2 separate regions of the Homo sapiens genome follow, and region 2 is linked to region 1. A link means that fine-mapping ties the variant in region 1 to the expression of a gene that starts in the linked region. Tissue or cell type: whole blood. Region 1 holds a variant in brackets; the other region holds the start of a gene. All regions are shown on one strand. Distances are from middle to middle.

What was found. PIP is the estimated chance that this variant, and not a neighbour inherited with it, causes the effect.
Region 2: it holds the start of TP53I3, and the variant in region 1 is fine-mapped to the expression of TP53I3 in whole blood (TOPMed, PIP above 0.99).

What each region holds. Positions count from the first base shown.
Region 1 is chr2:24,103,933-24,112,344 of GRCh38, reverse strand. It overlaps a transcript of FAM228B not described here. Among named protein-coding and RNA genes, the nearest start is that of PFN4, 15 kb to the left of the region's middle. RefSeq lists an enhancer at 7,377-7,436. The variant G/C (reference allele first, on the strand shown) is at 4,014.
Region 2 is chr2:24,082,768-24,087,767 of GRCh38, reverse strand. TP53I3 (tumor protein p53 inducible protein 3) reads left to right here and starts at 2,934. Exons shown (of 5, transcript NM_004881.5): 1 at 2,934-3,579; 2 at 4,616-4,883. The coding sequence starts at 3,442. It also overlaps a transcript of FAM228B not described here. RefSeq lists enhancers at 2,149-2,649, 3,397-3,446, 3,597-3,696, 4,292-5,000 and a silencer at 3,207-3,386.

The DNA of each region.
Region 1 (8,412 bases):
TGGGCGACAAGAGCGAAACTCCACCTCAAAAAAAAAAAAAAAAAAAAAGATGAAAGCTTCTGGTGATGGTTTTGAGATTTTCTTCAGGTCTCTTTTGATGCACATAATATATACATTTTAACCTTACCTAGCCTTAATGCATAGAGTTGACATTCCACTATGTTCATTTAGCATGATGCTATGAGACCTTGAATGTCTTTAAATTGCTTCAAAAACATTTTAAATCGCTGCATATCATATAAACATTATATTGTTCTTTGTTAGATATTTAGATTATTTCTACTTTTTCACTTTGTAAGTAATATTACAGTTTAGAACTTTTACATAATTCTTTGTATCTCTGATTATTTCCTTAGGTCTGGAAGTGGAATTTCAGGGTCAGAATTTGAGCAAGTTTATGGCTCTCTGGAGTTTTTGTTTTGTCTCTTACAAGGAAGGAATTTTACACCATAGCTTGTAACATGCAGTTGAGGGGTTTTTTTTGGCAGATGGGAGTTGTATGTAATTCAGCTCTAATTTATCAGCCCCCTCTGCTTGTGGGGTGAGTCCGAAGCAGTCTTAGTGTCCCAGTGGGTGAGGATGAGAGGAAATACTGCAGACATTTGAACTAGCTGAGTCAGAGACTGGAGAAGCAGGTTACTCTTTAAATTCCAGTTAGTGCTAAATCATGGTGATGTTGGACAGTCACACCTCTGCAGTCCAGAGATGTACAATATAAAGATACTTGTGAGGTTTGCACGACAAGCCAGGAAGCATTTGAGGACTTCTAGCCACAACTCCAAAAGAGGACAGGGATGCCAAGGCCCAAAGCTAAACAAAGACTGAGCTATCAATACTTCAGGCTAAAATTAGGCTGTGTCATCAAAACAGAATGGACAGGAGCAGAGATATGCAAAGAATGGCTCTCAAGCCTGCAAGACTTGAACATGTGAACATATTGATATGTGTGTAGAAGGAATGTGTAACCACAAAAAAAATGGAAGTGGGGCCAGGTGCGGTGGCTCATGCCTATAATCCCAGCACTCGGGAGGCTAAAGCAGGTGGATTGCCTGAGCCCAGGAGTTCGAAATCAGCCTGGGCAACATAGCAAGATCTTGTCTCTACAAAAAATGCAAAAATAGCTGGGCATGGTGGCACACCCCTGTAGTCCCAACTACTCAGGAGGCTGAGGCAGAAGGGTTGCTTGAGCCCAAGAGTTTCAGGTTACACTGAGCTATGATCATGCCACTATATTCTAGCCTAGGTGACACGGCGAGACTCTGTTTCAAAAAAAAAAAGATCAGCCAGGAAGCTCAGATAAGAGTCACTGGAGTAAATGTTGGTTGGGCCCATTCAAAGTGGGAGGGTTTATGAGCAAACAATTTAAGTACCCTGGTAGTTTCCAACAATAATTCTTTGACCAAGTGTCCTACGATTCAATTTGACACTAGCTAACTGGAGTTAGTGTAGACCTCACAGGTTAAGGAGCTCAGTTCCCACAAGCCTGTCCCCACTACAGATGCCAAACACGAGTTCCAGGTCCCCAGGCTACCCGCACTACCCACACTTCTGTCTGACCTGGCTACAGATTTGGGGGGGGAGTCCCATGACTCATGATAATTTGCTGGAATGACTACAGAACTCATGAAAAGGCTACACTGCACTTACGATTGCAGTTTTCTTATAAAGGATGCAAGTCAGGAATAGCCAAATGGAGATGTATAGGGCGGGGGCACAGAACTTCCACACCTCTCCAGACACATGCGCCTCCCAGCACATGGAGGTGTTCGCCAGCCCAGAAGCTCTCTCTCCAAACCTTGTTGTTCCAGGGTTTTTATATGGGCTTCTGTTATGTAGGCATAATTGACTGAATCATCGGCTATATGATTGAACTCAATCCCCACTCACTTTTCCTCCCCAGAAGTCAGGAGATGAAGCTAAAAGTTCCAGCCCTCTAATCACAGGGTTGGTTCTTCTGGTGACCAGCCCCTGCCCTGAAGCTATCTAGTACCTATCCCCCATCCCAGAAATGGGTGACTGATAGGTGTTTTTTCTGATCCCCTCCCTCCTCCCACCCTCCACTCTCAAGCAGGCCCCAGTGTCTGTTGTTTCCCTCCTAGTATCCACGTGTTCTCCTTGTTTAGCTCCCACTTACAAGTGAGAACAGGTGGTATTTGGTTTTCTGTCCCTGTCTTAGTTTGCTAAGGATAATGCCTCCACCTCTATCCATGTTGCTGCAAAGGACATGATCTCATTCTTTTTATGGCTGCATAATATTCCATGATGTATATATACCACATTTTCTTTATCCTGTCTACCATTGATAGGCATTTAGGTTGATTATGTGTCTTTACTATTGTGAATAGGCTGCAGTGGACATATGCATGGATGTATCTTTATGGTAGAATGATTTATATTCTTTTGGGTATATACCCAGTAATGGGATTGCTGGGTCAAATGGTAATTCTGTTTTAAGTTCACTGAGGAGTTGCCACACTTATTTCTACAATGGCTGAACTAATTTACACTCCCATCAGCACTGTATAAGCATTCTCTTTTCTCCACAACCTCGCCAACATCTATTATTTTTTGACTTTTTAATAATAGCCATTCTGAATGGTGTGAGATGGTATCTTGTAGTTTTCATTTGCATTTCTCTAATGGTTAGTGATGTTGAGCATTTTTCATATGCTTTTTGGCTGCATATATGTCTTCTTTTGAAAAGTGTCTGTTCATGTTCTTTGCCCACTTTTTGATGGGGTTGTTTTTGCTTGTAAATTTGTTTAAGTTCCTTATAGATTCTGGATATTAGACCTTTGTCAGATGTATAGTTTGCAAATATTTTCTCTCAGTAGGTTGTCTGTTTACTCTGTTGATAGTTTCTTTTGCTGTGCAGAAGCTCTTTAATTTAATTACATGCCATTTGTCAATTTTTGTTTCGTTGCAATTGCTTTTGGTGTCTTCATTATGAAATCTTCACCAAGTCCTATGTCCAGAATGGCATGTCCTAGGTTATCTTCCAGTGTTTTTATAGTTTGAGTTTTTACACATAAGTCTTTAATCCATCTTGAGTTGATTTTGTATATGGTGTAAGGAAGGGGTCAAATTTCAATCTTCTGCATGTGGCTAGCCATTTATTCTAGCACCATTTATTGAATAAGGAGTACTTTCCATTGCTTTTTTTTTTTTTTTTTGCCATTACTCTTTTTTTTTGTCAACTTTGTTGAAGATCAGATGGTTATAGGTGTATGGCATTATTTCTGGGCTCTCTCTACTGTTCCATTGGTCTATATGTCTGTTTTTGTACCAGTACCATGCTGTTTTGGTTACTGTAGCCCTGTAGTATATAGTTTGAAGTTGGGTAAGGTGATGCCTTCAGCTTTGCTTAGGGTTGCCTTAGCTATTCGAGCTCTTTTTTGGTTCCATATGAATTTCAAAATAGCTTTTTCTTTTTTTTTTTTTTTTGAGACGGACTCTTGCTCTGTCAGCCAGGCTGGAATGCAGTGGCGCAATCTCGGCTCACTGCAAGCTCCGCCTCCCAGGTTCATGCCATTCTCCTGCCTCAGCCTTCCAAGTGGCTGGGACTACAGGTACCCACCACCACACCCAGCTAATTTTTTGTATTTTTAGTAGAGACAGGGTTTCACCGTGTTAGCTAGGATGGTCTCGATCTCATGACCTCGTGATCTGCCCGTCTAGGCCTCCCAAAGTGCTGGGATTACAGGCATGAGCCACTGTGCCCGGCCAATTTGCATATGTTAAACCAACTTTGCATGTGCTGTTGGATTCAGTTTGCTAGCATTTTGTTGAGAATTTGTGCATCTATGTTCATCAAAAATATCAGCCTGAATTTTTCTTTTCTTTTTATTTTTGTTGTTGTTGTGTCTCTGACAGGTTTTGGTATCAGAATGATGCTGGCCTCATAGAATGAGTTGGGGAGGAGTCCCTCCTCCTCAATTTTTTGTAATAGTTTCTGTTGGAATGGTACCAGCTTTTCTTTATACATCAGGTAGAATTTGGCTGAGAATCCCTCT[G/C]GTCCTGGACCTTTTTTGTTTGTTTGTTTGTTTGTTTTGGTTGGTGGGCTTTTTATTACTAATTCAATTTCAGAACTCATTATTGGTCTGTTCAGGGATTCAGTTTATTCCTGGTTCAGTCTTAGGAAGCTGTATGTGTCCAGGAATTTATCCACTTCTAGATTTTCTAGTTTGTGTGCATAGAGGTATTCAAAGTAGTCTCTAAAGGTGTTTTGTATTTCTGTGGGGCCAGTGGTAACCTCCTCTTTGTAATTTCTAATTGTATTTATTTGGATCTTCTCTCGTTTTTTCTTTATTAGTCTAGCTAGTGATCTATCTATCTGATTAATTTCTTTCAAAGAACCGATTTCTGGATTTGTTGATCTTTTGTATGGTTTTTGTGTCTCAATTTCCTTTAGTTCAGCTCTGATTTTGGTTATTTCTTGTCTTCCAATAGCTTTGGGGTTGGTTTGCTCATGCATTCCTAGGTCTTCTAGTTGTAATATTAGGTTGTTAATTTGGGATCTGTCTGTTTCATGTGGGCATTTAGTGCTATAAACTTCCCTATTAACACTGCCTTAGCTGTGTCCCAGAGATTCTTGTATGTCATATCTTTGTTCTCATTAGTTTGGAAGAATTTTTTTATTTCTGACCTAATTTCGTTATTTACCCAAAAGTCATTTTGGAGCAGGTTGTTTAATTTCCATGTAATTGTGTGATTTCAATGATTTTCTTAGTATTGATTTCTATTTTTATTGCACTGTGGTCTGAGAATGTGGTTGGTATGATTTCAGGTTTTTTTATTTTGCTGAGTATTGTTTTATGTCTGATTGTCTGGTTGATTTTGGAGTATGTGCCATTTGGTGATAAGAAGAATGTATATTCTGTTGTTTTTAGGTGGAGCACTCTGTAGATGTCTATCAGGTTACTTTGGTCAAGTGTTCAGTTCAGGTCCTGAATAGCTTTGTTAATTTTCTGCCTCAATGATCTGTCTAATACTGTCAGTGGGGTGTTGAAGTCTCCCATTATTATTGTGTGGGAATCTAAATCTCTTCATAGGTCTCTAAGAACTTGTTTTATGAATCTGGGTGCTCCTGTGTTGAGTGTGTATATATTTAGGATAGTTAGGTCTTCTTGTTGAATTGTACCCTTTACTATTATATAATGCCCTGTTTATCTTTTTTTATCTTTGTTAGGTTAAAGTCCATTTTGTCTGAAATTATGATTGCAACCCCTGCTTTTTTTCTGTTTTCTGTTTGCTTTGTAGATTTTTCTCCATCCTTTTATTTTGAGCCTATAGATGTCATTACATGTGAGATGGGTCTCTTGAAGACAGCATACTATTGGGTCTTGCTTTTTTATCCAGCTTGCCACTCTGTGCCTTTTGATTGAGGTATTTAGCTGATTTACATTCAAGGTTAGTATTGATATGTGCAGATTTGATCCTGTCATCATGTTAGCTGGTTATTATGCAGACTTGTTAGTGTGGTTGATTTATAGTGTCACTAGTCTGTCTACTTAAGTGTGTTTTTGTAATGGCTAGTCATGGTCTTTCCCATCCATATTTGCTACTCCTCTCAGGACTGCTCATAAGGCAGATCTGGTGGAAAAAAAAAAATCCCCTCAGCATTTGCTTGTCGGAAAATCATCTTATTTCTCCTTCACATATGAAGCTTAGTTTGGCCAGATATGAAATTCTTAGTTGGAAATTTTCTTCTTTAAGAATGAAATGAGGCCAGGTAAGGTGGCTCATACCTGTAATCCCAGCACTTTGGGAGGCTGAGGCAGGCAGATCACCTGAGGTCAGGAGTTTGAAACCAGCCTGGCCAACACAGCAAAACCCTGTCTCTACTAAAAATACAAAAATTAGCTGGTCATAGTGGCGGGTGCCTGTAATCCCTGCTACTTGGGAGGCTGAGACAGAAGAATCACTTGAACCCAGGAGGTAGAGGTTGCAGTGAGCTGAGATCATGCCACTGCACTCAGCCTGGGCAACAGAGCAAAACTCTGTCTCAAAAAAAAAAAAAAAAAAAAAAGAATGCTGAATATAGGCCACCAGTCTCTTCTGGCTTTTAGGGTTTCTGTTGAAAGATCTGCTGTTAGCCTGATGGAGTTCCCTTTGTAGGTAACCTGCCCTTTCTCTCTAGCTGCCTTTGACATTTTTTCTTTCATGTAAACTTTGGAGAATCTGACGATTATGTGTCTTGGGGATGGTCTTGAGTAATATCTCTCAGGGTTCTCTGCATTTCCTGGATTTGAATGTTGGCCTCTCTAACAAGCTTCAGGAAATTTTCATGAACATTATCCTAAAATATGTTTTCCAAGTTGCTTGCTTTCTCCCTGTCTCTTTCAGGGATGCCCATGAGTCATAGATTTGATCTCATTACATAATCCCATATTTCTCTGAGGTTTTGTTCACTCTTTTTTATTCTTTTTTCTTTATTCTTGTCTGAATGGGTTATTTCAGAGAGCTAGTCTTCAAGCTCTGGGATTCTTTACTCAGCTTGGTCTATTCCGCTGTTAATACTTGCAGTTAGAATGTGCAATTCTTGTAGTGTGTTTTTCAGCTGTATCAGATCAGTTGGGTTCTTTTTTATAGAGGCTATTTCATCTGTCAGCTCCTGTATTGTTTTATTGTGATTATTAGCTTCCTTGGATTGGGTTTTGAATTCTCCTGAATCTTGATGATCTTCATTCCTATCCATATTCTGAATTCTATTTCTGTCATTTCAGTCATTCCAGCCCAGTTAAGAACCCTTGCTGGGGAACTAGTGTGGTCATTTGGAGGAAAGAAGACACTCTGGCTTTTTGATTTGCCAGAGTTTTTGTGCTAGTTCTGTCTCATTTGTGTAGGCTGATGTTCCTTCAATCTTTGAAGTTGCTGTCCTTTGGATGAAATTTTTTGTTTTTGCTTTTTTCTTCTTTGATGCCCTTGGGGGTTTGACTACAGGGCAAACCAAACCAAGGTGGGTTTGGTTAACTGCTTTCAATTCTAGTCCACTCCTAGGTCTTGGAGGAGCCCCTTCCAATTACTGTCTCCCTATTTGCATTTCTTTTTTGGGGTGTTCTGGTCCATGGAGCTCCCTTAGGCAAGGGCCACAGGTGGCAGACAAGCTGTAACCTTGCCAGGTCAGCTCCAATCTGCTGTCTGTGTGCTTCCTGGGGAAACACGAGGTTGTCCCTGCCTGCAGAGTTCAGGCAGAATCAGGACCACTGGATTGGAAACTACTGGGTGTGGCCCATCTGGCTACAGGACGCGGGGGTGGGTGGATGCAGTTGGCTGCCCTGCTGTCTGGGTGTTTCCAGTGCAACAGGAGGCTGCGTCCCTTGACAAATTCAGGTAGAAGTAGAGCCACTGGGCCAGCTCTGGCAGGTGTGGCTTGCCTGGCTACCAGTGGCTGGTGTTGGTGGGAATGCCTTCTCTGGTGTCTGTGCTTCCTGGGACAACAGAAGGCTGCATTTGTTGGCTGAGTTCACACAGAAGCAGGACTGCTGGGCCAGAAGCTCTAGCAGGTGTTATCCACCTGGCTGTCAGTGGCAAGGGTGGGTATGGTCATGTGCCTTGCCATTTGGGTGCTTCCTATGACAACAGGAGGCTGCACCCACCAGTTGAATCCACACAGAAGCAGAGCTGCTGGGCCAGGAGCTCTAGCAGTTGTTACCCAACTGGCTACCAGTGGCAGGGTAGGTAGAGTCACTTACTCTGCTGTTCGGGTGTTTCCCAGGACAACAGAAAGCTGCACCCTCTAGCTGAGTTCACACAGAAGCAGGGCTATTAGGCTGGAAGCTCTAGCAGGTGTTGCCCGCCTGGCTACCAGTGGTGGGGGTGGGTGGAGTGGCTGGCCGAGTTCAGGCTGAAGTGAGACTACTGGGCTAGAGGCTGGTGTTGAGTCCTACCCAGCATGGGTGGGTGGAGCAACCTTACTGCTCCCATGCATGGCAACTGCAGCCTTTGCTGGGGCTTCGGCGCTGGCTGGTCTGCCCCAGGGCCCAAGGCTTATAGAGGTCCCCTTGGACTCGAGAGTTGGCCCTATAATACGTCTGAGTGGCTCTCTGCCTCAGTCTAGAAACACGATGGGTGGGTGTGGGGCCCAGTGGGATTCTCCTATTCCCAGTCTTGCACAGGTCCCTGTGGAGAGCATGAATCACCCTGGGGGCTCTCACTCACTCACCCTGTCCTGTGCTGGAGAGGTTCTCCTGGCTCCATGCTGAGCCCAAACAGCTGGTGCCTGGCTTCACTCCTTTCTGCACTCTGTGTTCCTCTACTGCCCTGATGGGTCCCAACGTGGTTTTTCAGATGATCGGCCTGCAGCTCAGTGTTTGCTAGTCCTTTTGTTTCTTCTCCAAAACAGCAGCACACATGAGCTGCCTCTAGTCCACTATCTCGGCCCCACCCCCAATTCATCTCAATCGTCCCATC
Region 2 (5,000 bases), 23 kb after region 1:
GTGGTGGCTCACACCTGTAGTCCCAGCTACTCGGGAGGCTGAGGCAGGAGAATCGCTTGAACCTAGGAGGTGGAGGTTGCAGTGAACTGAGGTCAGGCCACTGCACTCCAGCCTGGGCAACAGAGTGAGACTCAGTTTCAACAACAACAACAAAAAAGAATTCTTATAGCGTGTAATCTCCAGTCCCTGCTTCCCCTTCCCAGGGTCTTTCTGGTGACCAGCTCATCCTGAAGCTATCTAGGGCCCCCACCCTAAGTCATATTAGCATAAACTCGAGTGTGCTTATAAGGGTTTGTTATTAATATAAAAAGTCACTTCTATCACATACGAAATTCCAAGGGTTTTAGGAGCTCTGCAGGAGAACAAAATATAATAAAAGATACTTATTGGCCAGGCAGAGTGGCTCATGCCTATAATTCCAGTACTTTACAGGCTGAGGTGGGAGAATTGCTTGAGTCCAGGAGTTCATGATCAGCCTGGGCAACGTAGCAAGACCGTATATCTAGTTAAAAACAAAAGAAAGAAAGAGATGTTTATTCAGCAAATAACAAAGGTTTTAGGAGTGCTATTGTAGGAACCCAGGACAAAGACCAAAAATATATATTTCTTATTACACACTGCAAGATTACATCGACCAAGGGCTCACTAAGATAAAATCTTAGGCACTTTCAACTACTAGTTTTACTGGGATACTTTAGTATACTTAGTGGTTGGTATTATTAGATTTTTTTTAAAGTTACTCCTTGCATCTTAAAAGTTCTTATTTAGCACTTACATTACACATTCCTCATCTATCTTAATCCATTCCATTTTCTTAATCCAATCAGTTTTAGTGTCGATTTTTGCAAAGTTTGTTATTTACAACTATTTCCTTTCCATCTGTCTCTGTTCTAGGATATTTATTTGGTTCAAACCTTTCCTCGATTTTGGACAGATGTGTATCCGGATGATGTGTCTCTGAATCCTTATACATCCTCAGACATGTTTTTTGCCCTAACAAGTGAATTATATCTTAATGGGGTATATTGAGTTACAGTGCTTTTCTTCTAGTCAATAGACGCTAGTCTACTCTCTTCTAGCTTCCAGATTGCAGATAGAAACTTGCTGGGCACAGTGGCTCATACTTGTAATCCTAGCACTTTGGGAGGCTGAGGCAGGAGGATTGCTTGAGTCCAGGAGTTTGAGACCAGCCTGGGCAACATAATGAGACCCCTACACTACAAAAAAGAGAGAGAGAGAAAGAGGGGGTGGGGAAGGAGGGAAGGAAGGAAGGAGGGAGGGAGGGAGAGAAGGAAGCCATTTTTTTTAACCAATTGTGAGTAACTTATTCTTTCCACACTTGTTAGAACCTGAAATTTTATAAAATATAGGCATGCATTTTTGTTCTTATGAATCCATCCTTTAGTGAATGTTTTCAATCCGTATAATCTGGTAGAATTTAGGAAAACTGTATTCTTTTATTTGGTTAACTATTGAATCTTCTTCATCCATTCCTCTTCCTCCTTCTAAAATTCCTTTTTTTTTTTTTTTTTTGAGACGGAGTCTCACTCTGTCGTCCAGGCTGGAGTGCAGTGGTGCGATCTCGGCTCACTGCAAGCTCCCCCTCCCGGGTTCACGCCATTCTCCTGCCTCAGCCTCCCGAATAGCTGGGACTACAGGCGCCCGCCACCACGCCCGGCTAATTTTTTGTATTTTTAGTAGAGACGGGGTTTCACCGTGTTAGCCAGGATGGTCTCGATCTCCTGACCTCGTGATCCGCCCGCCTTGGCCTCCCAAAGTTCTGGGATTACAGGCGTGAGCCACCGCGCCCGGCCTAAAATTCCTGTTATTCTCATAGCAGGGTCTCCTGAATTTTTCCTTAAGTCCCATCATTTTATTATTTCCATCTCTATAGGCTTTTGCTCTGTTGTGTTAAAGAAATAATTATTCAATGATACTTGTTAAAGCACATTAAGGAAGACTTTATTTAGCACCATCGCTACAGGTTTAGGGACCACTGCAATGAGTTCTTGCAGTGGAGGAGACAGGTTGGGATCAACTCTGAATGCATCACGGACAAGTGGGAATGTATAGCCAAGGAGCAGTGTAGGGGGTCAGTGGATGGAAAATTGGTAAGAGGCATCAGGGGTAAGGGGGATTCTATCTAAACTGACCTAACAGGATTCTCACTGAAGACAGGCCAGGGTGGTCGGATATCACTTGGGGGATGGTGGAGGATGAGATATTGAGGGTGATCAGATGTCAAGGATGGGAGGTTCTTACTAAAACAGGAATTTACAAGGAGTGCTACGGATATGTAGTGGGGGGAGGCCAGGGATGCTGCTAAACATCCTACGATGCACAGGACGATCTCCTACAATAACGAACTAGCTAGTCCAAAATGTCAATAGCGCCGAGATTGAGAAACCTTCATGTAGCTTACGGATACAGCTTTTACCCAATCGCCAGCATCCTTCTCCTGGGGCTGAACCTCTCCCCCAGGACTGTCAGGAGGAGGCGAGTGATAAGGATCCCAGGACTGCGTTTTGCCTTCCTTCCCCACCCCCACTCCCAACGGCTCCTTTCTCTTCTCTTAGCAGCACCCAGCTTGCCCACCCATGCTCAAGATGGGCGGGATGCCAGCCTGTTACATAAATGTGCCAAAAGCCTGGCCATGCCTGGAAAATGGACCAATCCGCCCGCCAAGAGGTTGGGTCTCGTTCCCTAGAGAGAAGGAAGTTTCCTCTCCTTGAAGTGAGAGCTAGAATCGCACTTTCTGTCAAGCTGAGAGAAAGACTCTTTTCCAGAGGCTAAAAGGACAAGAAAATCTGATTTGCTTGCTTCTAACTTTGCGTTTTAAAGGGGGAAGGAGGAAAGGAAAGAGGGGGAGGGTGGTTCTGCTTAGCCCCACCCCTCCGGCTACCCCAGGTCCAGCCGTCCATTCCGGTGGAGGCAGAGGCAGTCCTGGGGCTCTGGGGCTCGGGCTTTGTCACCGGGACCCGCAGGAGCCAGAACCACTCGGCGCCGCCTGGTGCATGGGAGGGGAGCCGGGCCAGGAGTAAGTAACTCATACGGGCGCCGGGGACCCGGGTCGGGCTGGGGGCTTCCAACTCAGAGGGAGTGTGATTTGCCTGATCCTCTTCGGCGTTGTCCTGCTCTGCCGCATCCAGCCCTGTACCGCCATCCCACTTCCCGCCGTTCCCATCTGTGTTCCGGGTGGGATCGGTCTGGAGGCGGCCGAGGACTTCCCAGGCAGGAGCTCGGGGCGGAGGCCGGGTCCGCGGCAGACCAGGGCAGCGAGGCGCTGGCCGGCAGGGGGCGCTGCGGTGCCAGCCTGAGGCTGGGCTGCTCCGCGAGGATACAGCGGCCCCTGCCCTGTCCTGTCCTGCCCTGCCCTGTCCTGTCCTGCCCTGCCCTGCCCTGTCCTGTCCTGCCCTGCCCTGCCCTGTGTCCTCAGACAATATGTTAGCCGTGCACTTTGACAAGCCGGGAGGACCGGAAAACCTCTACGTGAAGGAGGTGGCCAAGCCGAGCCCGGGGGAGGGTGAAGTCCTCCTGAAGGTGGCGGCCAGCGCCCTGAACCGGGCGGACTTAATGCAGGTACCCAGGGCTCAGCCGCGCCGGGGCGGGCGGGACTCCAGAGCCTCCCTCTCAACAGCACTCAGTGGACATTGACCAGACGTGAAGGCGTGCACCGCTCCACACCCAGCAGGCAGCTGCGCTGGGGCTTCCCAGACCTAAACCCAGGGCGCCCTCTTTGTTCATGCAAAACAAGGGGGAGTACTTGTAAAGCAGAATCCACCCCGAGCTAATCCATAGCCACTCAGGCCTCCAGATGAGGGCGGAACTAACATTGTTGTGGGGTGTGGGCACACTTACTCCCCAGGCTACCCTGTTCGCCATCTTAATTCTACAGATAAGGAAACTGAAGTTCAGTGAGGTTAAGCAGTACGCCCAAGGCCGTGACACTAGCAATCAGAAGAGCTGGGATTCAAGCTGAGGTCTTTGTGGCTCCAAAGACCTCTTAACTCTTTCCACTCTGAGAGTCCCGGAGCTGACAGCGGGCAGTACTCTTAAGAATTTTCTTCTGTCTGATGCTGATTTACTGACCTGGGCCAGCTGCATTGGTTGGGGTCATTCAGAAATGTGCATCAGAATCCCCCGGGGCACAAAAGAAACGTGATGGGGGCCCAGGCACGTGTACTTTGAAATACTCCTCAGGTGGTTCTGCCACACACTCCTGGTTAAGTCCCTCTGCTCTACAGCTTCTGAGGACTGGGGTGAGTGAGCACAGAGCCTAGCGCTTGATGCATGGGAACCATCGTCAAGGTTCCTAATCCCACTACTATTATTTCCCGTCTGGGACTCAGTTTCTCCATCTGTAAAGCAAGGGGTTCAGATGAGGTAAATAGCTAAGGACTCTACCAGTTATAACATCCACTGATCATGTGACCTCCAGTTTATTTGCATAAAACTAATGGCCTCTCCTTTTTCTTCTCCTTACTTACAAAAACCTGACTTCATTCTGAAATTTATTTTTGAAAAAAAAAAGAGGGGATCTTGGAAGGGGGGCCAGGGGTAGTGACATACAGATTTCTGATCATGCTCACCACTTAGTGCACTTCTTTCTCTGCAGAGACAAGGCCAGTATGACCCACCTCCAGGAGCCAGCAACATTTTGGGACTTGAGGCATCTGGACATGTGGCAGAGCTGGGGCCTGGCTGCCAGGGACACTGGAAGATCGGGGACACAGCCATGGCTCTGCTCCCCGGTGGGGGCCAGGCTCAGTACGTCACTGTCCCCGAAGGGCTCCTCATGCCTATCCCAGAGGGATTGACCCTGACCCAGGCTGCAGCCATCCCAGAGGCCTGGCTCACCGCCTTCCAGCTGTTACATCTTGTGGGTGAGGAGGCCTCCATGCTCACTCCACACAATGTGGCTCAACACCTTCATAAATCAGCCAACTTGAATCCCAGCAATCCCCCAGGGCACTCCCAGGCCTTCCTGTATCACCTGTATT